Regions from separate parts of the Homo sapiens genome. Here region 2 is linked to region 1. The links come from fine-mapping of genetic effects on gene expression. A gene starts in region 1. The other region holds a variant in brackets. All regions are shown on one strand. Distances are between the middles of the regions.

Region 1 (14,845 bases):
AGCCTGGCCAACATGGTGAAGCCCTATCTCTACTAAAAATACAAAAATTAGCTGGGCATGGTGGCAGGCGCCTGTAATCCCAGCCACTCAGGAGGCTGAGGCATGAGAATCGCTTGAATCTGGGAGTTGGAGGTTGCAGTGAGCCAAGATTGTGCCACTGCCCTCCTGCTTGGGTGACACAGCGAAACACTGCCTCAAAAAGAAAAAAAAAAACATATTTTGAGAGAGAGGCTATATTCACCTTTTATCGCGTTATTTTGTTACAGGTGTTCTATTTTATTAGTAGTTATTGTTAATCTCTTCCTGTGCCTAATTTATAAATTAAACTTTCTCATAGGTGTGTATGTATGGTGAAAAAAAAACAGTGTATATATAGTGCCCTGTACTGTCCATGGCTTCAGGCATCCACTACATGGTCTTGGAACATATACGCCATGGATATATGGGGACTACTGTACTGACAAAGGGTTCATATTTAAAATAAATAAAGAACTTTTCAGCCGAGCACAGTCGCTCACACCTGTAATCCCAGCACTTTGGGAGGCCAAGGCAGACAGATCACTTGAGGTAAGGAGTTCGAGACCAGCCTGGCCAACATGGTGAAACCTGTCTCTACCAAAAACATAAAAAATTAGCCAGGCGTATTGGCAGGTGCCTGTAATCCCAGCTACTCAGGAGGCTAAGGCAGGAGAATTGCTCAAACCTGGAAGGTGGAGGTTGCAGTGAGCCAAGATCATGCCACTGCACTCCATCGCGGGCAATACAGCAAGACTCCATTTCAAAAAATAAAGAAAGAAGAAACTTTTTTTAAAAAAGTGAAGGAGAAAAGATAACCCAACATAAAATAAGCAAAAATGAACAGAAGAGGAAAATGAATAGCCCTTGATCAACTAAGGGAAGATGCTCAACCTTGTTAGTAATTAGGCAACCTCAACCTAAACTGCATAAGTTACAATTGATACCCACCAGCATGGCAGGAATTAACAACTGCCAGCATCCACTTAGTAGACTGAGCAATGAGGACTGCCATCCACTGCTTTTGGAAGGCTGAATTACATACGAATTTTAAGAAACAGCAGCGTCATCTCTTAAAGTTGAGCACTCCTGTCACCGACACAGAATCAGTTCTGGAAAAACTTGCATCTGTTCATCAGGAGACATACAGGGATGTTCACAGCAGCATTATTAGCAAAAAGCACCGGCCGGGCGCACTGGCTCACGCCTGTAATCCCAGCACTATGGGAGGCCATGGCGGGCAGGTCACCTGAGGTCAGGAGTTTCAGACCAGCCTAGTTAACATGGTGAAACCCCATCTCTACTAAAAGTACAAAAAGGCTGGGCATGGTGGCTCACACCTGTAATCCCAGCACTTTGGGAGGCCGAGGCAGGCAGATCACCTGAGGTTAGGAGTTCAAGACCAGCCTGGCCAACATGGTGAAACCCCTTTTCTACTAAAAATAAAAAATTAGCCGGGTATGGTGGCATTTGCCTGTAGTCCCAGCTACTCAGGAGGCTGAGGCAGGAGAATCGCTTGAACCAGGAGGTGGAGGTTGCAGTGAGCCAAGATCGTGCCACTGAACTCCGGCCCAAGCGACAGAGTGAGACTCTGTCTCAAAAAAAAAAAAAAGTGCAAAAAAGTTAGCCAGGCATGGTGGCGCATCCTGTACTCCAAGCTACTCGGGAAGCTGAGACAAGAGAATCACTTGAACCCGGGAGGTGGGGATTGCAGTGAGCCATGATCGTGCTGCTGCACTCCAGCCTGGGCAACAAGAGTGAAAATTACGTCTCAAAAAAAAAAAGCACCAAATTACACATGAACAGTAGAGGAGATGAAGTTGTGTGTTTATAAGTAAAAGACTACATACACAGCAGTGAGAAGGGGAACTATAGCTGAATGTTTTGGCACAAATGAATCTCAAACATAATCCAAGCAGAAAAAGAAAATCACAATATATACAGTTCAAAAACCGGCCGGGCACAGTGGCTCACCACTGTAATCCCAGCACTTTGGGAGGCTGAGGCGGGAGGATCACCTGAGGTCAGGAGTTCGAGACCAGCCTGTCCAACATGGTGAAACCCCACATCTACTAAAAATACAAAAATTAGGTGGGCATGGTGGCAGGTGCCTGTAGTCCCAGCTACAGAGGAGGCTGAGGCAGGAGGATCACTTGAACCTGGGAGGTGGAGGTTTCAGTGAGCTGATAATCTGCCACTGCACACCAGCCTGGGTAATAGACTGAGACTTTGTCTCCAAAAAAAAAAAAAAAGCAGGCAAGAACTTAATATATGATTGAGAGTAAAACTCAGGGAAAGCAAGAGAGTTTTTTAAAAACTACAATATCGGCTGGGCACGGTGGCTCACGCCTGTAATCCCAGCACTTTGGGAGGCCAAGATGGGCAGATCATGAGGTCAAACGATTGAGACCATCCTGGCCAACATGGCGGCCCGTCTCTACTAAAAATACAAAAATTAGCTGGGCGTGGTGGTGCACACCTGTAGTCCCAGCTACTCAGGAGGCTGAGGCAGAAGAATTGCTTGAACCTGGGAGGTGGAGGTTGCGTGAGCCAAGATCACGCCACTGCGCTCCAGCCTGGCAACAGCGAGACTCCATCTCAAAAAAAAGAAAGTACAATATCAAGGATAGTGGTTTCCTTAGATGGGGACAGCCACAGAGTGCAGTCAAGCAGAAGCAGCTGAACTAACTCTGAGGTGAGGTGGGGGTTGTATGAGTGTCCGTCTTTTTTTTTTTTTTGATGGGAGTCTCGCTCTGTCCCCCAGGCTGGAATGCAGTGGCAAGTTCTTGGCTTATTGCAGCCTCTGCCTCCCGAGTTCAAGAGATTCTCCTGCCTCAGCCTCCCGAGTAGCTGGGATTATAGGCGTGTGCCACCATGCCCAGCTAATTTTTTTTTTTTCGAAACCAAGTCTCACTCTGTCGCCCAGGCTGGAGTGCAGTGGCGTGATCTCAGCTCACTGCAAGCTCCGCCTCCCAGGTTCATGCCATTCTCGTGCCTCAGCCTCCCGAGTAGCTGGGACTACAGGCACCCGCCTGGCTAATTTTTTGTATTTTTTAGTAGAGATGGGGTTTCACCCCATGTTAGCCAGGATGGTCTCGATCTCCTGACCTCGTGATCCACCCGCCTCGGCCTCCCAAAGTGCTGGGATTACAGGCGTGAGACACCACGCCCAACCAAATTTTTTGTATTTTTAGTAGAAACGGGGTTTCACAGTGCTAGCCAGGATGGTCTTGATCTACTGACCTCATGATCCGCCCACCTCGTCCTCCCAAAGTGCTGGGATTACAGGCATGAGCCACCCGCCCGGCCCGAGTGTTTGTTTTAATATTCTTTACGGTATACATACTGTATCTTGTATGTGTAAGAAATGTTTTATTTTATTTATTTATTATTTTTTTGAGATGGAGTCTCACTTTGTCACCCACGCTGGAGTGCAATGGTGCAATCTTGGCTCACTGCATCCATCACCTCCTGGGTTCAAGCGATTCTCCCACCTCAGCTTCCTGAATAGCTGGGACTACAGGCACCACCATCAAACCTGGCTAGTTTTTATATTTTTGTAGAGACAGGGTTTCACCATGTTGGCCAAGCTGGTCTTGAACTCCTGACCTCAGGTGATCCGCCTGCCTCGGCCTCCCAAAGTGCTGGGATTACAGGTATGAGCCACCGTGCCCAGCCAGAAATGTTTTATTTTATAAAGGGTAATGGTCATACCTGCCTTGTCTACATGTCAAATGAGATAATCAAACGAGAAACATTAGCTTTAATTTTGTGGGCATTTACTCTATGCTAATCACTGATCTGTGTTTCTCACTCATTCAGCACAGTAACACTATGAGAGAGTAGAACTATTCTTGTTTAGAGATAACAGGTCAGAGTGGTTTAGTAACTTGTCCAAGGTTACACTGCCTGTAAGTGACAGGGCCCAGCATTTTGCAGAGTGTCTTAGTCTGTCTTGTGCTGTTGTAACACACCAAAAATACCAGAGGCTGGGTGATTTATAAAGAACAGAAATTGGCCAGGCATGGTGGCTCACGCCTGTAATCCCAGCACTTTGGGAGGCCGGGGCGGGGCAGATCTCGAGATCAGGAGATGGAGACCATCTTGGCTAACATGGTGAAATCCCATCTCTACTAAAAATACAAAAATTTAGCCGGGCGTGGTGGCACGCACCTGTAGTCCCAGCTACTCAGGAGGCTGAGGTAGGAGAATCACTTGAACCCGGGAGGCAGAGGTTGCAGTGAGCCAAGATTGTGCCATTGCACTCCAGGCTGGGTGACAGCAAGACTCTGTCTCAAAAAAAAAAAAGATCACAAATTTATTTCTGGCAGTTCTGGAGGTGGGGGAGTCCAAGATCAAGGTACCAGCTGGTTCATTTTCTGGTGAAGGCTGCTCTTCTCTTCCATCCAAGATGATACCTTGTTGAAGATACCTTATTTGTAGGAGAGGAATGGGAGGAATGCTGTGGCCTCACATGGTGGAAAGCAAAATGGCAACAGGGCCAAACAGGCATGAAGCCTGTTTTCCTTTTTCTTTCTTTCTTTTCCTTTTTTTTAGAGACGAGACGGGGTCTCACTATGTTAACCAGGCTGGTCTCAAACTCAAGCAATCCTCTCACCTCGGACTCCCCAAGTGCCCAGGATTGCACGCATGAGCCACCATGGCTGGCCTTTTTTTTTCCATAGAGATATGGTCTTGCCATATTGTCCAGGCTGGTCTCAAACTCCTGGGCTCAAGTGATCCCCTGCCTCCTCCTCCCAAGGTACTAAGATTACAGGTGTGAGCCACCACACCCAGCCTGAAGCCTCTTTTATAAGGGCCTTAATCCCATTCAAGAGGAAGGAGCCTTAATGGTTAAGTTGAAACTTAACCATAAGTTTCAACACCAGAATTTTGGAGGGGACACATTCAAACCATAGCACAGACTGTCCAGGGCTGACCACAATCAGCTGTGGCCTATGGCAGAGCCCTGTGGACACCGGGTAACTGCCCATCCTAGACATTTACTCCATCCTTCTCACAGGTGCTGAAGTCCACAGGGGATGTGGCCGGAGGGCGGGCCCTGTACGAGGGGTATGCAACAGTCACTGATGCGCCCCCCGAGTGCTTCCTCACCCTCAGGGACACGGTGCTGCTGCGTAAGGAATCTCGGAAGCTCATTGTTCAGCCCAACACTCGCCTTGAAGGTAATGAGGTAATGAGGGAGCTCTTGAGCTCCCTTGATGAGCACCACACAGGGCCCTCTGGGAAGCAGTAAGAACCCATCCCAGGGCTCAATAAGAACCTAACCCAGCCTGGGATGGCCCTTCCCTTTCTGCCAAGGTCCTTCCCATGCCAAACCTCAGGCCCTTATCTTGGTATCTGTCACCACCCACCACCCCCCCGACACACACACAGTCATGCAAGTTGTAAGACAGTGACAGAAGATTTGAAGAAGACCACCAGAGCAGGGGATAGCAGAACATGCAGACTTAGGGGGAAGCCAGGCGTTCATACCAAAGAATTAGACCTGTTGGGTACCCAGGCTGGGGGTCAGGTGAGGAGGGAGCTGGGATCCAGCAAGCCTAGTGAAACCCAGGGGACAGTGGACTCGGTCACATCCAGGATGGTGATCAACAGCTGCATCATCCCGCTTCCTTCTCAAGCGACAATTCCAGAGCCTTGGCCACACGGTGCTTGTATCTTTCGTATTCAGACCCCCTGGGGTTCCAGCCCCTTACTGCCTTCACTTTCCTCTCACCCCTTGACTCATCTTTCCTGCTACTTGTCACTTGAGATACCTAAGATGATGTGTGTTATGGAGAGGTTAGAGCACCAGCTTCAGAACCACCCTGTGACTTTGGCCTAGTCACCTGACATTTCTAGACTTTGGTGTCTTCATTCATAAAGGCAGTGTGGACTGCTTGCTGATGTTATCGTGAACCTGAATTCCTTCTTAGAGTTTCTAAGTGCTTTCTGGGGATTAACCTTTTAAATCCTTGCAGTAGCCCAATAAGGTAGGTATTGTTGTTATCCCCATTTTACAGGTAAGGAAACTGAGGCACAGAGAGTAATTTGCACAAGGCTTATGGCTTTTTAGTGGAGGAGCCAAGAGTCAAATTAAGAGTGGTTGAGTCAGGCATGGTGGCCCCTGCCTATAGTCCCAGCTACTTGAAAGAGTGAGGTAGGAGGATTGCTTGAGCCCAGGAGTTCAATGCTACAGAGCAAGACCTCAACTCTTTAAAAAAAAAAAAAAAAAAAAAGCATTGTCCTGGGCAGTTGTGAGGGTTACATAGAATAATATTTGCAAAAAGTCACTACCTATTATTGGTGAGGAAAAAGCATTTATTTATTTGGTTTTTGGGTTGGTTTTGTTTTTGTTTTTGTTTTTGTTTTTTTTGAGACGGAGTCTCACTCTGTCGCCTAGGCTGGAGTGTAGTGACACAATCTCGGCTCATTGCAACCTCCGCCTCTGGGTTCAAGCGATTCTCCTGCCCCAGTCTCCCGAGTAGCTGGTATAACAGGCGCCCGCCACCACACCCAGCTAATTTTTGTATTTTTTTTAGTAGAGACGGGGTTTTACTATGTTGGCTAGGCTGGTCTCGAACTCCTGACCTCAAGTGATCTACCCACCTCAGCCTCCCAAAGTGCTGGGATTACAGGCGTGAGCCACCATACCCGGCTATTTTATTTTATTTATTTCTGAGACGGAGTTTCCCTCTTGTTGCCCAGGCTGGAGTGCAGTGGCTCGATCTTGGCCCACTGCAATCTCTGCCTCCCGGGTTCAAGCGATTCTCCTGCCTCAGCTTCCTGAGTAGCTGGGATTACAGGCGCGTGCCGCCATGCCCGGCTAATTTTTGTATTTTTAGTAGAGACAGGGTTTTGCCATGTTGGCCAGGCTGGTCTCGAACTCCTGACCTCAGGTGATCCACCCTCCTCGGCCTCCCAAAGTGCTGGGATTACAGGCGTGAGCCACCATGCCCAGCCGGAAAAAGCATTTATTAAGACGCTCATTCTAGATGCTTTTCCATGCTCTCCAGAGGCTTCCTGGGATTTGGCCCCAACCCTTGCCAGCCTCACCACCCCTTCTCTGGCTCACTGTACTCCAGTCTCCCGACCTTTCTGTTTCTTCTACCCACTGAGCTGGGTCCACTCCTACAGCCTTTGAATAAGCTGTTCTTGCTGCTTGGCATGATCTTCCTCCAGATCTTTGCCTGTCTGGTTCTTTTTGTCCTTCCGCTCCTTGTAAAACGGCACCCTGTGAGAGAGGTTGTCTCTGACCCCTCCACCTAAAGTAACTGCTTCGGTCCCTCTCTGTTCTGCTACCCAGTTTCATTTTCTTCTAGCGCCCATCACGCTTGCCCATTTTCTTGGTGGTCACTTCTCATGATGGGAGGAGCAGCATACCCCAGTGCCTCATGCACAGCCTGGCACACTGGAGTTGCTCAGTGACTGTCAAATGAGTGCATTAATAAATCATGCCAGCCACATGGACAATACTCTCAATTGCTTTGATATGTCCAGCCCTGTGCGAGCCATGGGGGAGCCACTAGGGATCCGGAGGTGATCACAGCTCACTGGGGATGATAAGATATGGAGATAAATAATCATACAAGGGGGCCGGGCGCGGTGACTCACACCTGTAATCCCAGCACTTTGGGAGGCTGAGGCAGGTGGATCACAAGGTCAGGAGATCGAGACCGTCCTGGCTAACACGGTGAAACCCCGTCTCTACTAAAAATACAAAAAATTAGCCAGGCATGGTTGCAGGCGCCTGTAGTCCCAGCTACTCAGGAGACTGAGGCAGGAGAATGACCTGAACCCGGGAGGCGGAGCTTGCAGTGAGCCAAGATTGCGTCACTGCACTCCAGCCTGGGTGACAGAGCGAGACTCCATCTAAAAAAAAAAATAATAATAATAATCATCATCATAATCATACAAGGGAAGTGTTAATGAGTGGCCAAAACATATAAACAGAACTCTGAACACTTAGAGGAGGGAAGATCGCATCCATCTTCAAGAGTATCCGGGAACGTTCTGGGGAGGAAGGGGTGGTTCCCACTAGATCTGAAGAACAGGTTGGATTTTCAAAGGTTGTGATGGTGGTGCACTGTAAAAAGTTTTTTTTTTTTTTTTTGAGGTGGAGTCTCACTCTGTCCCGCAGGCAGTGGTGAGATCTCGGCTCACTGCAACCTCCACCTCCGGAGTCAAATGATTCTCCGGCCTCAGCCTCCCAAAAAGCTGGGATTAGAGGCACCCACCACCATGCCCAGCTAATTTTGTATTTTTAGTAGAGATGGGGTTTCACCATGTTGGCCAGGCTAATCTCGAACTCCTGACCTCAAGTGATCCACCCGCCTCAGCCTCCCAAAGTGCTGGCATTACAGGTGTGAGCCACCACACCCAGCCAGGTCGCTGTAAAAGCTTTCTATGGCTTAACTCCTAACAACCCAGAGAGAAATGGTTATTATCCTCATTTTTCATCTGGAAAATGAGGCACAGAGGGGCTGTGTATTTGCCTGCGGTCACAAAGCTGTTGGGTGGCAGAGCCAGAACTTGAACTCCAGAGCTTGTGCTCTTTGCTGCTGTGCAGCTTGTGATGTCATGGAACACGACAAGGTGCACAGAGAGGGTAGAGCAGTTGAAGTGTGTTTGAGGGCAGTGCTTCCCGGGGGTATTCAGGGGACCCTCAGAACAGCCCATTTAATAAATCAGTAAACAGGTTCGGAGATAATGATGCCATGGTGGCTAGCATTTGTTGAGCACCCCCTCGATGTGTGACTATGTCATCACTGCAGCTCCTTTACAGATGAGGAGACTGAAGCTTGGGAGGTTGCAACACTTGCCCCAGGTCCCACAGTAGACAGATGAAGTCGTTGCTGAATTGTGAGCTTCAGGACACCAAGGACTGTATCTGTTTCACCTAGTGTGGCACCTGGTGTCTTTTATTATTTATTTATTTATTTATTTATTTTGAGGTGGAATCTCACTGTCACCCAGGCTGGAGTGCAGTGGCACGATCTCTGCTCACCGCAACCTCTGCCACCCGGGTTCAAGCAATTCTCCAGCCTCAGCCTCCCGAGTAGCTGGGACTACAGGCTCATGCCACCACGCCCAGCTAATTTTTTTGTATGTTTAGTATAAACAGTGTTTCATCATGTTGGCCAAGCTGGTCTCAAACTCCTGACCTCAGGTGATCCTCCCACCTCAGCCTACCAAGGTGCTAGGATTACAGGCATGAGCCACCATGCCCAGCCTAAATCTTTATTTGATTGACTGAATGAACGAAAGCAGCAATGCATTTAATACTCCCCCTGTAGTATTTCCTTCCTCACAGGGTTACTGTAAAGAGTAAATTAAGTAATTAACCTAAAACGTAGAGCACAGGTTTTTTTGGCAGAGCTCAGTAAGAAACAGCTGCTGCTGTAATTGTGATTATTAAGATTTTTATGATGATTCAGTTTCCCTATTCAGACCTTTCCCTGCTGTTTTCTCTCCATCTCCTCCCCAGGCTCAGACGTGCAGCTTCTGGAATACGAGGCGTCAGCTGCTGGCCTCATCCGATCCTTCTCTGAGCGTTTCCCAGAGGATGGACCCGAGTTGGAGGAGATCCTCACACAGCTGGCCACAGCCGATGCCCGATTCTGGAAGGGCCCCAGTGAGGCCCCATCTGGCCAAGCTTGAGGAAGATGTGTGGCCTTGCCCCCAATTCCATCAGACCAAGGCTGCAAGTGGCCCTCCATTCGTGTGTGTATTTAGGGGCTGGGGAGGGGGAGGGGCAGGAGCTTGGACCTTGGTACTACCTCAGCTGAGGGTGGTGACACAACCCCTTCCATTTGTCAGCACTTTCCAGCCTGCCAATTGCTTCCCCTCTGTGATCTCATTTCATCTGCACTGCCATACGTGGAGTGAGCAAGACAGGGCTTACCATCCTGTCTACCAGATGAGGAAATGGCAGTTCTGAGAAGTCACTGGTCTAGATCCCGCAGGTGGCACGTGACAGCTAGGGTTCAAAACGTTCTCACCAAATCCAATGCTCCTCACATATTAATTTTATAACCAGACAAATAAATATTAGAGACAACCACCATCTTTGCGGCGTGTGTGGCTCCTCCTTGCCTTTGCCTGTCTTCTCATTTACTCCCAGCAGAGTGATGGGCTCAAGGCCTGGGGAGGGGGCAAGGAGGGCCATTTTTAGCCTCCCTTCCACAACAGGATGTTGACATTATCTCTAGATGAGGATACGCAGTCACAGAGCTGAACATAGCACAATTTTTGCAGCTCTCCTTTGTGGCATTCCTTGCATTTTTAAATGTTCTGGGGCCGGGCACGGTGGCTCATGCCTGTAATCCCAGCACTTTGGGAGGCCGAGGCGAGGGGATCACGAGGTCAGGAGTTCGAGACCGGCTTGGCCAATATGGTGAAACCTCGTCTCTACTAAAAAATAAAGTAGCTGGGCATGGTGGCATGCGCCTGTAATCCCAGCTACTCGGGAGGCTGAGGCAGGAGAATCCCTGGAACCCGGGAGGCGGAGGTTGCGGTGAGCCGAAATCGCGCTACTGCGCTCCAGCGCAAGCGACAGAGCGAGACTACGTCTCAAAAAAAAAAAAAAAAAAAAAAAGTTCTGGGAACCTACAAACTCAACTTCAGTCAGAATCCTCTGCATTTGTCCCATAACCCTCGTGTTTTGTTTCTCTGGGCCTGGACCTCTACAGTAACGCAGCAAGGCAGGACATGGTCCTTTTCAACCGGGTAACCATGAAGATGGAGACAGGAGGAGTTCTTTTTGCTGCTCATAAATGCTAGAAGGGGCTTCTTTCCAACCCTGGAAGCCAGAGGGCTCTGTGGCTGACCCAGAGATTGTAGGACCCAGACGCCTGGAAAGGTGGCTCTGACTGGGAAGGAGCAAAGATAAATATCTTTGAGGAATCTGAGACAGATTCCTCAACCCAGGAAGGTGGCCAGCGCGTCCTCCTGAGCCTGGGTGGGAAAGCTTGGCGCCCGGAACCTTTGTACTCGCCCTTCCCTGTGCTCGGGCACTATTGGGCGTTACGCGAGGGCGGGGCCGGTTGCCAGGACGACGCCTGCGAAGATGGCCGCTGCGTCCTCATCGGATTCCGACGCCTGCGGAGCTGAGAGGTGAAGGCAGGGCTCCTCAAGGCCTCTTTTCCCACCCGTGTAAAGAGGGTCCCTTGGTCCCCGGGCTCTGGGCTCCTGCTGTTCTCGGGCAGTCTGGAAGGACTCTTAAGAGGTCAGATAGGGAAACCGAGGCCTAAGATGTGCATATGTGTGTCTGGAGGTCGCTCGGTGAGCCAGTGGCGGAGCCTGGACTTGTACCCAGACGTTCTGTACCTTATGTTCAGAGTGACCTGTACCAGCTTCCTCAAAGTTTTTTTTTCCCCTCCCATGGGACTCACTCCCCAACTGTCTTTCCCCCACTTCCAGCAATGAGGCCAATTCGAAGTGGTTGGATGCGCACTACGACCCAATGGCCAATATCCACACCTTTTCTGCCTGCCTAGGTGAGTCTCTGGAACCAGGAACCCTGGGTTCTAGTGGGATGGGGAGTCAGACAATGGTCCTGTAGTGAAGCCTCTGGGATTCTGAGACTCTGGTTTTGGCCCTTTTGTTTTCCAGCGCTGGCAGATTTACATGGGGATGGGGAATACAAGGTAAGCATATCACCCTAGCCAGGAGAGTTGAGGGTAGGGGGGTGTACCCAGAAATGAGATTTCCTGACGGCTGAAAATAGGCCCAGCATACTCTGGAATTCACATATACTGTGAAAAAGCACATTTAGCGTTAAATTTTGTTTTTATATGGAAAGTGAAGAGAACTTATTGATTTCATAATACAGACTGCAGAAAGTAAAGCAGATCAAATATTTCTGGGGATTCTACTAAGACAAAGCCTCTTAGTTAACCTGATTTCTTTGTTGGAAGGGCAAATCCCTTGGTTGGGGGTGGGCACTAGAATCTGGAGGGAAAGTAAAAAGGAGGGAAGTGAACGTTTGATGTTTATCAAAAGATTTTAAGATGGGCCATGAGCTGTCAATTTTTGAAGCTGGATAATGGGATATATGGGGACTCATTATATGAGTCTCTCTACTTTTGTATGTGAATGAAAATTTTCCATAGTAAAAATGTTACATTTTAAATTTAATTTTAAGGCCAGCAATCCCAGCACTTTGGGAGGCTGAGGTGGGTGGATCGCTTGAGCTTAGGCATTCGAGACCAGCCTGTCCAACATGGTGAAACACCATCTCTACTAAAAATACAAAAATTAGCCGGGCATGGTGATGGGCACCTGTAATCCCAGCTACTTGGGAGGCTGAGGCAGGAGAATTGGTCAAACCCAGGAGGCGGAGGTTGAGTGAGCTGAGACCATGCCACTACACTCCAGCCTGGATGACAGAGTGAGACAGTTTCAAAAAAAAATATATATATATATATGTGTATATATATGTATATATATGTATATATATGTGTATATATATGTATATATATATACATATATTTAATTTTAAATAAAAATGTAAATTTAAAAAGATACAAGTTTTTTAAAGGTAGAGAAATATATTGGGATAAAAGAAAGGAAGTTAGCATGGATTCAGTATCCATTTCTGGACTAGACATTCCATGGAGGCACATAAACATGGATTTTATTTATTCCCATTTTGTGAATGGGAAAATAGTTTCAAAGAGGTGAAGTTTACTGAATTTGTAACTGGGTCTGTTTGATTCCAAGTTTTGTGCTTTTTCTACCAAAGCTCAGCCCTCACCATGGGCAACAACACCACAATGGATATATCATGTGGGTGGCTAGAAGATAGTCCTGGAATCCCACCCCACACAGAGAGTGCAATAGGACTCAGTGGTTTTTGCCCCCAAATTCCTATCCATAATGTATTCAGTAATTCAGCAAGTGTATAGTGAGTCCCTACTGTGTGTCAGGCATCATGGGGACACTACACTCAGAAATGCATCAGCATGTGGTCAGGAGGAGATACACTGTCGACAATTATTCCATGATATTGATTGAATACCTAGTTTGTATTTGGCTCTGGGCTTACAATAGTGAGGGAAGAGAAACCACAGACACAGTAGCTAATAAGAAATGTTAGCCAGGCACAGTGGCTCATGCCTGTAATCCCAGCACTTTAGGAGGAGGCCAAGGCGGGTGGATCACGAGGTCAGGAGTTTGAGACCAGCCTGGACAACATGGTGAAACCCTGTCTGTACTAAAAATACAAAAATCAGCCGGGCGTGGTGGCAGGCGCCTGTAATCCCAGCTACTCGGGAGGCTGAGGCAGGAGAATGGCTTGAAACCAGAAGGCGGAGGTTGCAGTGAGCCGAAATCACGCCATCGCACTTCAGCCTGGGTGACAGAGCGAGACTCCATCTCAAAAAAAAAAAGAAATGTTAAATATCTTCACATAATAGAATGTTTAATGGCTAGTTTATTCACCATTGAGTCCCAGCATCTAGTCCAGTACCTGACATAAAGTAGGTACTTGATAAATATTTGTGGGGAAGTGAGTAGATGCTAAAATTGAACATGTAGAAAGTATTACGGGAGCGCCAACGAGAACAATGGATTCTGTCTGGAGGCACCAGGAGGTAGTAATGTGTGAACTGGGCATTGAAGGATGAATGAAGTCTATCAAGAAGTCAAGGATGAGAGGATGGGGAAGGCATTTCAGGTAGAAGAAACAGCACAAGCAGAAGGACAGAGACTTAGAAGTTCATAGCATATTTGGAAAGAATAAATGTGAAGTTAGAAAGTTGAGACCCATATAAAATAACTACCACATAAAATAGTAGTTAAGACTATGGCTTTGGATTCAGACAGAACTAGCTCTACCACTTAATAGCTGTATGACTTTTACTTAACTTCTCTAAGACACAGCTTCCTCATTTGAGAAATGAGGCTAATAATGGTGCCTACTTCATAAGGTTGTTGAAAGCCAGGTGTAGTGGCACACACCTGTAGTCCTAGCTGCTTGGGAGGCTAAGGTGGGAAGACTGCTTAAGCCCAGGAGTTTGAGGCTGCAGCGAGCCATGATCGCACCACTGCACTCCAGCCTAGGTGACAGAGCAAGACCCAGTCGCTTAAAAATAATAAGACTGTTGAGAGGGTTAAATGAAACGATGCATGCAGTTTCTGATGTGGTCCCTGGCATATACTGCATGCTCAGTATCCAGGAGTTCTTGGGTACCCCCTTTCTGGCCGGAGCACAGCAATGGGAAGGGTGATAGGAAACAAGTTGGGAACTAGATCAGAGAGGCCTTCCAGGCCTCATTCAGGGAAATGGGCTTGTGTGGCAGCTCCAGCAGCTTGGAAGATGGATTAGAGGGTGGAAAGCTGAGATCAAGGAGCTTGTTTCCCCTCTGTGTGTCCACAGAGCACATCCTGCCCTGCATTTGGAAACCAGGCTTCAGCAGCCCAGATATGGGTGTCCCCGTCCCCTCCCACACTGACCTCTACCACTGTCCCAGTATCTCTCTAGAAGTGCCTGGTGTGGAAGAAATGTTTGCTGAATGAATAATAAAAACATCAACTGCCACTTATTCCTCAGTAGCACTTACCAGGTTCTGTAACTCATTATCTCACTTGATTTTCACCACATACCATGAAAGTATCACCATTCTGCAAGCGGGAAACCTGAGATTCAGAAAGGTTAGTCAACTTTCCCAAGGTCAGGCAGCTTGAAAGCCTGAGGGCAAAGCCTTTATTGGTGCAGGAATGAATGAATGTGCACCAGCAATAAGGCAAGAAGAGGGTCAGTGGAGAGGTCTTCAGACCCTGAGCCTAGAATGAGCCATCCTCTCCCTGCAGCTGGTGGTAGGGG
Region 2 (14,845 bases), 210 kb before region 1:
TTCCGCCCCCGGCGTCCCCTCATCCAGCCTCGCCCGTCCTGTGACGTCAGTGCCTGGCCCCCACGCGTCCCAGTGCCGCAGCGCAGCGGGGGATGCTGCCCCCACCCCCAGGGCCGCGGGGTCAGGTCCCCAGCCCGGCCCAGCCGCTCACGAGGTGTCCGGGCAGCGCCTGCAATGCAGCAGCAGTCGCAGAGCCTAGAGGGGAGGAGGGGAAGAGGAAGGGAGGCGCCTGGGTACCCCTTCTCCTTGTCCTCGAGGTGAGGATTGAGGGCCCATTCTGCTGGCTGGGACCCCCGACGGCCCCTCCTCAGCCCTAGCCAGGAAGGTCTGCAGGACCTGGGGCCCCGAGTGATGTGTGGGGTGATAGGGTGGTGAGTGGGGCTGTGCATGCATTTGGGTGAATGTAGCCTGCTTCTGTGTGTGTGTTGTGTGGGTGTGTGAATTGGGTGTGTGCGCCCTGTAGTCAGGTGAGGGGCGAGTGGGTGCCTGGCTCGGGTTGTCACCCAGTGGTCTAGGTGTGCGCATGTGAGTGAGTCCCTTTGTGGGCAGGTCTCTCCCTGTGGAGTCTGAGGAGCCTGGGGGTCAGTTTGCAGTGGGGGGTGGGGAGATGTGCACTGTGGTCAGGTGAAGGTCTGGTATGTCTCTGGGCTTCACTGCACGTGCAACGTGTATGTGCACGTGTGTGTCCTGTGGTGGATGGGTATGTGGTGTGTGCGTGTGTGTGTGTATGTGTGTGTACCATGCTACGGTTCTGGGAGTCTGTGCCCTGGGGACAGGCGAGGGTCTGGAGTTTCCTGGGTGACAGGCAGTGTGGCCCTCCACGGTGGGTGGGTCTGTGATGAGCATGTGTTGGAGGGGCGTGGACAAGTGTGTGTGCACCTGACAGGCCTTGCAGGTCAGCTGGCGCTGTGCTCCCATGCTGGGTGATGGGGACAGGCTGTATCTGGGCTGGGCTAGGGGGTGGTTCCTCTCCTCTTGGGCCTCTGGAGGCCTGGTAGGTCTGGGGTAGGAGAGGTGGCCCCTTAACCCCCCTTTTGTTGTTTCCACTTTTTTCCTCCCCTTTTTACCCTTCCCCTCGCCCCACTTTATCCCTACCTGCTTCTCTCTCCATGGCACCTGAGGGTGAGGTGGCTAGGCTGGCAGCCCTGCCAGGGAGGGTGTGGCAAGCCCTCTGAGCCAGGGAGTGGCCCCTGCTGCCCAGTAGCTGTGTCCCACCCCCTTGCTCAGCACAGATGGGGAGTGGAGGATGGCCCTCCATCTGCTCCCCACCCCAAGACTCGCACCTCCCCCGTTCTTGAGGCTCCCTCTTTCTCATCAACTCAAAAGCCTCTGCCGAGACTTCTGAGTCCCTATGGAACAAGGGACCAGAGGGAGTCTCAGGGTAATGGTGATCATATTTATTCCCATGGCCAGACCCTGTGCTCACTTCTTCACACATATGATCTTGTTGAATCCTCACAATAGAACCAGTTTACAGATGAGGAAATTGAGGTCCAGAGAGGATGAGGGACCTGCCCAAGTCATACAGTAAGTAGTGGAGCCAGCACTGGCTCCTGGGCAGTGGAACTCCAAAGCCCATGCTGTTTACACCTCAGACCCCTTCCACCCTGGCTTCCCAAACCAACAGGACCAAGAATCAAGGCCCAGAGAGGGCAGAGATATAGCCAAGTCCACACAGCAAATCAGGGCAGAGCCAGGACCAGAACCCACAATAGCCAGTGCAAGGATCCATCCCTCCTGGCTGAGGTGGGCCTGCTGTCTCCTGTGTGCGGTTTGCCGAGTGCTAGCACGGCACAGTGGAGGATGGGTTTGGGGCAGCGAGTCCTGGGTTTGAATATGCAGCGCCACTGTGAGTGAGCTGGAAATGTGAAGCCTGGAGCAAGCTGCTCATCCCTCTAAGCCTCAGTTTCCTCCTCTGTAAAATGGGGCTCACGGTATCACCTTCCTCAGCCGGGTTAAGCAAAGTGGCAGGCCCCACTGATGGCCCCACCTGACACAGACTTCCCTTTCTCTGCCCACCTGCAGCAGCGGCCCCTGAAACAGTCCCTGGGAAGCTCCCTGTGCCGCGAGTCGCACTGGAAGTGCCTGCTCCTCACGCTGCTCATCCACGCCTGCGGGGCCGTGGTGGCCTGGTGTCGCCTGGCCACAGTGCCGCGGCTGGTCCTGGGGCCCGAGGCCGCCTTGGCCCGGGGAGCCGGGGGCCCGCCACCGACCTACCCGGCCAGCCCCTGCTCCGATGGCTACCTGTACATCCCGCTGGCCTTCGTCTCCCTCCTCTACCTCCTCTACCTGGCTGAGTGCTGGCACTGTCACGTGCGGTCCTGCCAGGCGCCACGCACCGACGCCCACACGGTGCTGGCGCTGATCCGCCGGCTGCAGCAGGCGCCGCCGTGCGTCTGGTGGAAGGCCACCAGCTATCACTACGTGCGGCGCACACGCCAGATCACGCGCTACCGCAACGGCGACGCCTACACCACCACGCAGGTGTACCATGAGCGCGCTGACAGCCGCACGGCCCGCGGCGAGTTTGACTACTCGGCGCACGGCGTCCGCGACGTCTCCAAGGAGCTGGTGGGGCTGGCGGAGCACGCGGCCACGCGGCTGCGCTTCACCAAGTGCTTCAGCTTCGGCAGCGCGGAGGCCGAGGCCTCGTACCTCACGCAGCGGGCGCGCTTCTTCAGCGCCAACGAGGGCCTGGACGACTATCTGGAGGCGCGCGAGGGCATGCACCTGAAGGACGTAGACTTCCGCGAGTCGCTCATGGTCTTCGCCGACCCCCGCAGCCCGCCCTGGTACGCGCGCGCCTGGGTCTTCTGGCTCGTGTCGGCGGCCACGCTGTCGTGGCCCCTGCGCGTCGTGGCCGCCTATGGCACGGCTCACGTGCACTACCAGGTGGAGAAGCTCTTTGGCGCCAGCTCGCCCCCGCCGGGGGCCGTGCCCAGCGGGCCCCCGCTGTCCCGCGTGGCCACAGTGGACTTCACTGAGCTCGAGTGGCACATCTGCTCCAACCGGCAGCTGGTGCCCAGCTACTCGGAGGCCGTGGTCATGGGCGCGGGCTCGGGCGCCTACCTCAGAGGCTGCCAGCGCTGCCGCCGCTCTGTCAGCAGCAACTCGCTGCCCCCCGCCCGGCCCAGCGGGCCCCGCCTGCCCTTCAGCCGCAGCCGCCTCTCGCTGGGCGCTGGCGGCCGGGCCACGCCAGGGGTCTTCCGCAGCCTGAGCGGGGGGCCGCTGGGGCGCCGTGGAGAGGACACGGAACCCCTGGAGAGCCCGCCCTGCTATGAGGACGCCCTCTACTTCCCGGTGCTCATTGTCCACGGAGACAGCGGCTGCCAGGGGGATGGGCAGGGTGCTCTCTGAGACCCCCCACGGCCCCCAGAGTGGCCCCCTCCCCACCATTCCACCATGGGCTTAGATGCCCGAGTGATTGTTGTCCAAAACAGGCGGGAAAACAGACCAGCCACACACAAGGGGCAGGGGTGAGGGTGGGGGTGGGGGTCCTTAAACAGACTAAAATGCAGTTACCTGTGGTCATTTTGGAGGAAGTGGAAGCCTAAGAATCGCCCCCAGCATGGCTTCATCCCCCAAGATGGCCGATGATCTGGCCTGAAGGCCTCTCACAAAGGGCAGGAGAAGAAGCTTCCAGAAAGGCTGGGATGGAGGAGGAGTCCTGCGGCCAGCTGTTGCCTGCAGCAGAGGCTGCCTGTGGACACTTCCCTACCGGGGCTGAGGCCATGCTGGGA[G/GC]CCCCCCCAGTGACGCAGAAGCACAAATTGGAGGCTTGGGGCCATGCCCAGCCAGGTTGGCTTCCCTGGGGCTGAAGAGCTGGCTGTGGTGGCACCATGGCCTTGGCCCTGCTACTCACCCAACATTCCCATCCTCCCCTGATAGGCCCCTCCTCCTTGCCTGCCCTCTCTCCCGCTGCTCAGGGCCAGTCACTCCCCCCACATGCAGCTACCCCTACAACCTGGGGTTCCTTCTCAGGGCCTCACCTGGTCCCCACATCCCCTGGCCTCTGCTCCTGCCTCCCAAAGTCCATGTCTGCCTCCATCAGCCACACACACGCAGGGACGCCCGTTCCTTGCCCTCCCGGACTTATCTACTCTTCACTTTCCTGATGATCCATGGGGCCCAGGCCTAGAGGGCATCCGAGGGGCTGGGCCTTGGCCACAGCCTCTTGGATGATGTCCTTGCTCCACCACGCAGGCCCTTGCTTCTCCCATCAACGAGTCTTGGCCCAGGGGACACTGACCCTCCCCCAGGGAGGAGAGAGGAGTTCCTTCCCTTTCAACGAGGGCTTCCACGCCCTCTAAGGGGTGGCGGGGAAGGGAGGAGGCTGAGAAGATGCAGATTAAATAAAGGTATGGAATGGAAGGCCTGTGCATTCCTGGGTCATGGGTCTAAGGCCTCCACTGCAAGCATTATGGGCCCCCATGGTTCAGGGCACGATGAGGGGTTCTGGGAAGGGACTCAGAATTGGGCTCCAGTGTTCCCAGGAACCAAGTAAGCAGAGGAGAGGAAACCTCCCCTGCCTAGCCTGGGGCCTCTGAGACTCAAGTGTGAGGCGCTCTGAGCACCTGGCTCCCCTGACTCCGGTATCTGGGCCTGGGTCACTGCTAAGGCATTGTCAAGGTGGCCCTTGTTCCAGCTCAGTGGGACATTCCACTCTGCTGCTGGGCATGCCGAGGGCTAAGGGAGTGGTGGCCGGTCCCCAAAGTGGGGAGAAAGAGCTATGGTCTGTGACTCGAATTCGGTGCCCCCCCAGCGGCTACTGACATTATCAATCTGAGGGAAAGGGCATGAAGCAGGTCAGAAGACACAAAGCTGGAAAGGGCAGCCCCAAACCAGGGCAGGCTGGCATGGAATCCAAAGGCAGAGAAAACATCAGGGAAAAGGAAGGTCCTGACTCCCTGATGGAGCTCTGAAAGATTCCTGGACGTGGCATTGTCACATGTGCAGCAGTAAAGGGTGTTCACTGTGCAAGGGCAGTGGGCTAAGGGGCAAGCGTGCATGGAATCCAGCCTACAGGCCACTCCCCAAACTCTGGCATGGAGCTACATCCACTTGGAGAAAGGGGACCGTTTTCCTTTTCACGCAAAGGTGGCTTAAGGGCTAGTGGTGGCCCGGGAAGTGTGCTGAGAATGGGTGGATTTCACTAAGCAAAGACATGGCAAGCAATGTCTTGGACAGCCGATGCTGCCCAGACAAAGGCCTGGTTGTCGGGCATGAGCTGAGGTGTGACAAGGAGATAGAAGCAAGAAGCCATGGAAGGCTTTGCTGCAGCTTCCATGCCAAACCCTAGAATTTGTCCTTAAACTGGAGCAAACTGGGCAATCTGGAACCATGGAAGGGGGTTGGGCAGGGACGTGATACAGTCAAGGCTGCATTTTAGGATATTTAGCAAAAGTCCAGCGACCTGCTGGCTCTGTCGGGAGGGTGGAGTGAAAGACCAGAGTTCTCCCTGTGCGTTAACCCACAGCCTCTCTTCTTTGGGTGTGAAATCAGTTCCTCGTTCAGAAGCAAATTAGGTGGAAAACCCTGTGGTGCCCAAACATTCAACAAGGCTGCAGGGGGTGGCCAGGCACAGTGGCTCATGCCTGTAATTCCAGCACTTTCGGAGGCCGGGGCAGACAGATCATTTGAGGTCAGGAGTTTGAGATCAGCCTGGCCAACATGGTGAGACACCCCCCACCCCCGTCTTTACAAAAAATACAAAAATTAGCTGGGTGTGGTGGCGGGCACCTGTGACAGCTACTCAGGAGGCTGAGGCAGGAGAATCGCTTGAACCCGAGAGGCAGAGGATGCAGTGAGCTGAAATTGCGCCACTGCACTCCACCTGAGACTGTCAAAAAAAAAAAAAAAAAAAAAGGCTCCAGCAGGTAGGGAGGCCAGCATGCTGGTTTCAGCTCCTTGCCATGGGAAAGACCCTTTTTCCACCATTCTGCTCTAACACCATAGCCAACAACTGCCCACTGGCCACTCACTGTCCATTCTCCTCCCTTCCCCAATAACAGAACCCCAGTTTTGCTGCAGAAGGCAATGTGCCCAGCTAAAGGGCAACATTTCCAGCCTCCCTGGCATATATGGTATGACTGTGTGGCTGAATTCTAGGATATTAGATATAAACAGAAGGTGCTGGAAGGGATCTCCAAGAATGCCCCTTGAATAGAAGCAGTATTGATGAAGGCCATTTTTGTCCTCTCTGCTTCAGCCTGCATTCAGCCTTGGATGCATATGTGATAGCTGGAACGCCAGCAGCCATCTTGGAGCAGGAAATGACCTTGAAAATTGTAGCCACAGGCTGGGCGCGGTGGCTCATGTCTGTAATCCCAGCACTTTGGGAGGCCAAGGCGGGCGGATCTCGAGGTCAGGAGATCGAGACCATCCTGGCTAACACGGTGAAACCCTGTCTCTACTAAAAATACAAAAAATTAGCCAGGCGAGGTGGCAGGCGCCTGTAGTCCCAGCTACTTGGGAGGCTGAGGCAGGAGAATGGCATGAACCCGGGAGGCGGAGCTTGCAGTGAGCCGAGACTGCGCCACTGCACTCCAGCCTGGGCGACAGAGCAAGACTCCGTCTCAAAAAAAGAAAAGAAAAAGAAAATTGTAGCCACATGCTGAAGACAGCAGAGCAACAAGGGAAAAGATCCTGGGCTTCTGATGACACCATGCAAGTTTCCATGTCATCCCTTGGGTCGCCTACCTCCAGACTTCAATGAGAAAGAGAAATAAACTGTAAGTCTGCTTAAGCCCATTGCTTTTTTTTTTTGTCTCTGTTACCAGCAGCTTTTACCAATTATCTACTGCCACATAACAAATTATCCTAACCCTAGTGGCTTAAAAGAGCAATAATTATTATGCTCTCTCCTGGCTTCTGTGGGTCAAGAACTCAGATAGGACACAATGGGGATGGCTTCTATGCTCCACGACATCCAGGGCCTCTGCTGGAAGACTCAAAAGCTGGGGCTTGAATCATCTGAATGCTCATTCACTCACATGTCTGGCAGTTGATGCTGGCTGAGGGCTGAGGGCTGAGAGCCTAACTAGGGCTGTTGGTGGGAACACCCACACAGGTCCTCTCCAAGCGGCTTGACCTTCCTCATAACATGGTGGCTAGGTTCCAAGAACAAGTATACTGAGAGGGTGAAAGCTGTATTGCACTTTGTGATCTAGCCTCCTAAGTCACATGGCATCACTTCTGCCCCTTTCCATCGGTCAAGGCTACTATGAAGGTCCACTCAGTTTCAAGGGGAGGGAATATAGGATCTCATCTCTCTGTGGAGGCTTGTCAATGTCACATTGTTAGAAAAGCATGCGGGATGGGAGATATATTAGTGGTCATCTTCAAAAATGCAATCAACTGCTGAGCCAAATGCCATTTGCCATTCCTAACTGATTGATACCTGTAAAGTGATCTGCAAAATGAACACCAAGCTCTTTATAGTGCTGGTTTAAGGAAGGAAGGTGGTGGCATGTCAGATATGGGCCTGCTCAGGGCAAAGTGAGCTGCTCAGATCATTTATGGGGACCTTCAGGCCTATGGTAGATTAAATATGGCCACAAATTCTTTGCCACTCCTCTCCTCAAGAGGTGGAATCAGGCCGGGCACGGTGGCTCACGCCTGTAATCCCAGCACTTTGGGAGGCCAAGGCAGGTGGATCACTTGAGGTCAGGAGTTCAAGACCAGCCTGGCCAGCATGGTGAAACCCCAACTCTACTAAAAATACAAAAATTAGCTGGGCGTGGTGGTGTGCACCTGTAGTCCCAGCTACCTAGGAAGCTGAGACAGGAGAATCACTTGAACCCAGGAGGCAGAGGTTGCAGTGAGCTGAGATCACGCCACTGCACTCCAGGCTGGGCAACAGAGCAAGGCTCCATCTCACAAAAAAAAAAAAAAAAAAGAAAAGAAAAGAAGTGGAATCTGTTCGCCCTTTAAATCTGGGCTGGACTTGTGATTTGCTGTGACTGATTGGATGTGAGGGAAGAGATGTTGGCCCACTTCTGAGGCTAGGCCTCAAGGACTCTCGCAGCTTCCACCTTTGCCCTCTTGCAATCCTGAGACCACCATCTGTAAAGATGTCCAGCCAAGCCTCCTGACAGATTTGAGGCTGCGTGGAGAACTGAGGCCCCCAGCCAAGAGCCAGCATCAGCTCCAGATATGGGATGACAGAGGCCATCTTAGACACTGTAGCCCCACTTGAGCCGCAGATGACAGGAGCCTCAGGAGTGACCCAAGGTGAGACCAGCAGATGAACTACCAAGCTGATCCCAGCCCAGACTGCTGTCCTATAGAATGAGGGGAAATAAATCCTTGTTTTAATCCACTACATTTTGGAGTGATTTGTTACATGTTACATGATCACTGTCACAAGGCTCTAAACCCACCTGCACCTCATGAGGGAGGGCACTGGGCCTGCACAGCCAGGAAGAGGAGGGACCCAGAAGCCCCATTGTTTGATGGACAGCTCTCAGCTCACAATCTCCTGATGGGAGATGGGGTGGCCACGTGTTCAGACTCTCTTGGAGTCAACATCAAGCCAAGGTGTTCTGTTCTAAACCGTTCTCAAGAGAAGAATTCATGCCTGAGAAGGGGTGCAAAGCCTGGCTCCCAAACCCCAGCGGCCTCTGCCTCTGCTCTCTCCTGACATAGGCTACCCACAGCATGGCAGGAACAGAACCTGTAATTTCCACCCCTACCACCATCTGCTCCTCTCTGTCTTCCATCTCAGGAAATAGAGCTACCATTCAGCCAGTTGCCTAAGCCAGGCACCAGCACGGCAAGCCTCTTCTTTTTTTTTTTTTTTTTTGAGATGGAGTCTCACTCTGTCGCCCAGGCTGGAGTGCAGTGGCCAATCTCAGCTCACTGCAAGCTCCGCCTCCCGGGTTCATGTTCATGCCATTCTCCTGCCTCAGCCTCCCGAATAGCTGGGACTATGGGTGCCCGCCACCATGCCCGGCTAATTTTTTGTATTTTTAGTGAGACAGGGTTTCACTGTGTTAGTGTTAGCCAGGATAGTCTCGATCTCCTGACCTTGTGATCTGCCCGCCTTGGCCTCCCAAAGTGCTGGGATTACAGGCATGAGCCACCGCGCCCAGCCGCCTCTTTTTTTTTTTTTTTTGAGATGGAGTCTCGCTGTCACCCGGGCTGGAGTGCAGAGGCGTGATCTCAGCTCACTGCAACCTCCGCCTCCCGGGTTCAAGTGATTCTCCTGCCTCAGCCTCCTGAGTAGCTGAGATTACAGGCACATGCCACCATGCCTGGCTAATTTTTGTATTTTTAGTAGAGACGAGGTTTCACCATGTTGGTCAGGCTGGTCTCAAACTGCTGACCTCGTGATCCGCCCACCTCAGCCCCTCAAAGTGCTGAGATTACAGGCGTGAGCCACCCCGCCCGGCTGTCTCTTCTTTTTTTGAGACCGAGCCTCGCTCTGTTGCCCAGGCTGGAGTGCTGTGGCGCAATCTCCGTTCACTGCAGCAACCTCCGCCTCCAGGGTTCAAGCGATTCTCCAGCCTCAGCCTCCCGAGTAGCTGGGATTACAGGCACCCGCTGCCACGCCCATCTAATTTTTGTATTTTTAGTAGAGATGAGGTTTCTGCATGTCGGCCAGGCTGGTCTTGAACTCCTAACCTCAGGTGATCTGCCTGCCTCAGCCTCCCAAAGTGCTGGGATTACAGGCATGAGCCACCACGCCTGGCCTGTTCTTTCTTTAAAACTTTGTATTATGTAAAATTTCAGCTTGTAATCCCAGCACTTTGGGAGGCTGAGGTGAGAGGATCACTTGAGCTTGGGAGTTTGAAACCAGCCTGGGCAAGATAGTGAGAGCCCATCTCTACCAAAAAGTTAACAATTGGCCAGGTGTGTTGGAGCTCACCTGTAGTTCCAGCTACTCAGAAGGCTGAGGTGGGAGGATCGCTTGAGCTGGGAGGTCAAGAGGTCAAGGCTGCAGTGAGCCGTGATTGTGCCACTGCACTCCAACTTGGGTGACACAGCAAGACTCTAGTCTCAAAAATAAAATAAAATATCTTTCTTTCTTTTTTTTTTTGTTTTTTGTTTTTAGACAGAGTCTCGCTCTGTCACCCAGGCTGGAGTGCAATGGTGCAGTCTTGGCTCATTGCAACCTCTGCCTCCTGGGTTCAAGTGACTCTCCTGCCTCAGCCTCCCGAGTAGCTAGGATTACAGGTGTGTACGACCACACCTGGCTAATTTTTCTAAAAAATAAAATAAAATTTCAAACATCACAAAAGCAGAAAGATTGGTGCAGTGAGGCCCCTTCTACTCAGCACCCAGTGCTGTGATGATCATCCACCTGCAACCACTCTGGGCTCCATCCACACTCAGCCCCACTTATTTGAGCTCCAACTGGATTATTTGAAGAAGACCTAGAAGCTGTAGCATTTCGTCAGCTCCCCTCACCCGCCCCACCACGCGTGATATCGACCACCCAAGATTCTACTCAGAACACAACACACCCCACCTCCTCTCCACCCCAAGCCACCTTGCTCCAAGTGCCCAGGATTCCTCCCCCATGACTCCGACAGGCCTCCCACGCCCACTTACTCCTGCGGCCTATGCAGAGACCTCATGTAAATCAAATCACGTCCCCATTGGTTTCTGTCTAAAGTTCTCTCCCACCAACTCTCAGCTCGCTTTGCATTTCCTTTCGGCCACTCACCATAAGTTACAATTATTTTCATTTATTTATGCACGAGTTTCTTTATCTGTTTCTTCTATTAGAATTAAGGCCATGGGGCTGGTCATGGTGGCTCACGCCTGTAATCCTAGCCTTTGGGAGGCCGAGGCGGGCGGATCATGAGGTCAGGAGATCGAGACTATCCTGGCTAACACGGTGATACCCTGTCTCTACTAAAAAAAAAAATACAAAAAATTAGCTGGGGCGTGGTGGCGGGTGTCTGTTGTCCCAGCTACTTAGGAGGCTGAGGCAGGAGAATGGTGTGAACCTGGGAGGCGGAGCTTGCAGTGAGCCGAGATGGCGCCACTGCACTCCAGCCTGGGCGACAGAGCAAGACTCTGTCTCAAAAAAAAAAAAAAAAAAAAAAAAGAATCAAGGCCATGGGAGGCGAATAGTTACACGGCCAGACCCTTGAGTTGGTTGGAATAATTCCAACTCTCCACTACAACCTGAGAAGCCCTGGGCAAGTCACTTATTCTCTCTCTTCTTCAGTCTTCTCATCTGCAGAATGAGAGATGACAATAGAACCTATTTACTTCAGGCCGGGCGCGGTGGCTGACACCTGTAATCCCAGCAGTTTGGGAGGCTGAGGCGGGAGGATCACGAGTTCAGGAGATCGAGACCATCCTGGCCAACATGGTGAAACCCCATCTCTACTAAAAATACAAAAATTATCCAGGTGTGGCGGTGTGTGCCTATAGTCCCAGGTACTTGGGAGGCTGAGGCAGGAGAATTGTTTGAACCTGGGAGGTGGAGACTGCAGTAAGCCAAGATCACGCCACTGCACTCCAGCCTGAGTGACAGAATGAGACTCCATTTCAAAAAAGATAGATAGACAGATAGATAGATGATAGATAGATAGATAGATAGATAGATAGATAGATAGATAGAGATATATACTTTTTTTTAAATTCATAGACAGGGTTTTGCCATGTTGCCTAGGCTAGTCTCAAACTCCTGGGCTCACAAGATCCTCCTGCCTCAGCCTCTGCAGTAGCTGGGACCAGAGGTGTACGCCACCATGCCCAGCTATATATGTTTATATTTTGTAGCGATGGGATCTCCCTATGTTGCCCAGGCTGGTCTCAAACTCCTGATCTCAAGCAATCCTCCCACCTCGGCCTCCCAAAGTGCTGGGATTACAGGTGTGAGCCACTGTGTGCCCAGTCAAATTTTTTTTTTTTTTTTTGAGGCAGAGTCTCGCTCTGTCACAGAGGCTGGAGTGCAATGGTGAGATCTTGGCTCACTGCAACCTCCACCTCCCAAGTTCAAGAGATTCTCCTGCCTCAGCCTCCTAAGTAACTGGGATTACAGGCATGAGCCACGATGGCCAGCAATTTTTTGTATTTTTAGTACAGACAGAGTTTCACCATGTTGGCCAGGCTGGTCTTGAACTCCTGACCTCAAGTGATCCACCTGCCTTGGCCTCCCAAAGTGCTGGGATGACTGATGTGAGCCACTGCACCCGGCCTATAAATAAATATATATTTTTAAATATTTATTTATTCCCCATCTAATCTTATAGACGGCCTTATCTAAGGCTCTCTTATTTATTTATTTATTTTTGAGACGGAGTCTTGCTCTGTCTCCCGGGCTGCAGTGCAGTGGCATGATCTTGGGTCACTACAACCTCTGCCTCCTGGGTCCAAGCGATTCTCCTGCCTCAGCCTCCCAAGGAGCTGGGACTACAGGCATGTGCCACCATGCCTGGCTAATTTTTGTATTTTTAGTGGGGATGGGGTTTCACCATGTTGGCCAGGCTGGTCTCAAACTCCTGACCTCAGGCGATCCACCTGCATCGGCCTCCCAAAATGCTAGGATTACAGGCAGAAGCCACTGCACTCGGCCAATAAATATTTTCTTAAAAGATACTATGTGACCGTGCTTAAATCAGGGTCTCAAGCATAGGAAGTGCTCAATAAAGATTGCTATCATCATCATTTGCATTATTATAAATTACAAGTGGACGCTCCCTCTTACAACATACGCACACTTCACCAGCAGCCAGCGCAGTGCCTGGCACACATAATGGATGTCTAGTCAATCTGTGTTAAGTGAATGATTCCCGATCTCCTACCAACACTTCCAACTTCCTGGGGTTAGCTGGGTCCTGAGGGCCAAGTGGACCACGGCCCAGACCAGCCAAAGTTTTCATTGCTTGGCCACACTTGCAGTGGAGCTTTTCTGATCTTTGGTTAGTGGGCTTGAGAACTTAGGGCACCCAGGGAAGCATTTGCCAACTACCTAATCCAGCAAACCATGGCATTCTATGTTTCCTCCTTGGATCCAGACCCCAGACCACTAGACCCCTAGAGCTTCCCCGAGGTGGCAGGCCCAGGTGCATTCATTTTTTGTGAGTTTCATCTTCCCTCTTACATCACACCTGCTGCCTTCTGTTCTTCAGAGCCCGTGAGTATGAAGTCACTGCTGAGATGGCCTGGGATGTATCTGGAAAGGGCAAGGAGGATCAGGCATCCAGCCAAAAGTTGGATACACCCTGAGTGAGGATGGGGAAGGTGCGCTGCTGCCCTTCTGGGTAAAGGTCAAAGCTCCTGGAAGTCAGATTCAACAGAGACCAAGACAGACAGATTGGTTAAACTGATGACTACATATCAAATGTAGCTGTGCCACATCTGCTCCAAGGAGGCATTTCTGTCCAGAATATCAGCTGAGACTGAAATTGGCTAGTTCTCAGTAACCCATGGTCACAGTCCAAAAGATAGATGTATTTTTCTTTTTTCTTTTTTTCTTTTTTTTTTTTGAGACGGAGTCGCGCTCTGTCACCCAGGCTGGAATCCAGTGCCGCAATCTCGGCTCACTGCAGCCTCCGTCTTCTGGGTTCAAGTGATTCTTCTGCCTCAGCCTCCCGAGTAGCTGGGATTACAGGTGTGTGCCACCACGCCCCACTACTTTTTTGTATTTTTGGTAGAGACGGAGTTCCACTGTGTTAGCCAGGATGGTCTCGATCTCCTGACCTTGTGAGCCACCCACCTCGGCCTCCCAAAGTGCTGGGATTACAGGCATGAGCCACTGCGCTTGGCCATAGATGTATTTTTCTTCTCTTTTTAAAAAACATATAAAATAAAACGGACCAAAATACGAATACTTTTTTCAGTAGAATAGTTTCAATTTATGTGTTATAAAAGCACAATACAGGCTGGGCGCAGTGGCTCATGCCTATAATCCTAGCACTTTGGGAGGCCAAGGTAGGCAGATCACTTGAGGTCAGGAGCTCAAGACCAGCCTGGCCAACAGGGCAAAACCTTGTCTGTACAAAAAATACACGCCTGTAGTCCCAGCTACTTGGGAGGCTGAGGTGGGAGGATCGCCTGAGTTTGGGAGGTTGAGGCTGCAGTGAGCCATGATTGTACCACTACACTCCAACCTGGGTGACAGAGTGAGACCCTGTCTCAAAAGAAAAAAGCACAATACATTATAAAAGACAATAACATTGTGCTATAAAAGACTGCAAAAGTGGGCCGGGCGTGGTGACTCACACCTGTAATCCTAGCACTTTGGGAGGCCAAGGTGGGCAGATCACCTGAGGTCAGGGGTCTGAGACCAGTCTAGCCAACATGGTGAAACACTGTCTCTACTAAAAATACAAAAATTAGTCGGGGGTCGTGGTACGTGCCTGTAATCCCAGCTACCGGGAGGCCGAGGCAGGAGAATTGCTGGAACCCAGGAGGCAGAGGCTGCCGTGAGCCGAGATCGTGCCACTGCACTCCAGCCTGGGCAACAGAGCGAGCCCGTCTCAAAAAGAAAAAAAAAAGAAAAGAGAAAAAAAGACTGCAAAAAGTATAGAGACTATTTTAATAAAGATCAAATTCCTGTTGGGCATGGTGGCACAAGGCTATAATCCCAGCATCTGGGGAGGCCAAGGCCAGAGGATTGCTTGAGGCCAGGATTTCCAGACCAGTCCCGGCAGCATACCGAAACCCCTATCTTTAGTTAAATTAAGTTTAAAAAAAATGTTTTTTGAGACAGGATCTCACTCTGTCACCCAGGCTGGAGTTCAGTGCTGTGATCACGGCTCACTGCAGCCTTGACCTCCCGGGCCCAAGTGATCCTCCTTCCTCAGCCTCCTGAGTAGCTGGGACTACAGGCATGCACCACCACATTTTTCATTTGTTTTATTTTAAGAGACAGGGTCTCACTATG

Which allele goes with the higher level. Alleles are on the strand shown, and positions count from the first base shown. SD is a standard deviation of normalised expression in the study named.
In carriers of allele G in region 2, the expression in unexposed skin of the gene that starts at base 11,062 in region 1 tends to be higher than with GC alone (small effect, 0.16 SD a copy in GTEx).

The links. PIP is the estimated chance that this variant, and not a neighbour inherited with it, causes the effect.
Region 2: its variant is fine-mapped to the expression of BBS1 in unexposed skin (GTEx, PIP above 0.99).

What each region holds. Positions count from the first base shown.
Region 1 is chr11:66,499,574-66,514,418 of GRCh38, forward strand. It overlaps BBS1 (Bardet-Biedl syndrome 1), which reads left to right and starts at 11,062. Exons shown (of 17, transcript NM_024649.5): 1 at 11,062-11,133; 2 at 11,440-11,516; 3 at 11,632-11,666; 4 at 14,833-14,845. The coding sequence starts at 11,087. It overlaps DPP3 (dipeptidyl peptidase 3), which reads left to right. Exons shown (of 18, transcript NM_130443.4): 17 at 5,039-5,201; 18 at 9,506-10,084. The coding sequence ends at 9,678. RefSeq lists an enhancer at 10,924-10,973.
Region 2 is chr11:66,292,297-66,307,141 of GRCh38, forward strand. It overlaps TMEM151A (transmembrane protein 151A), which reads left to right. Exons shown (of 2, transcript NM_153266.4): 2 at 2,026-4,368. The coding sequence ends at 3,357. Among named protein-coding and RNA genes, the nearest start is that of TMEM151A, 7.8 kb to the left of the region's middle. The variant G/GC (reference allele first, on the strand shown) is at 3,741.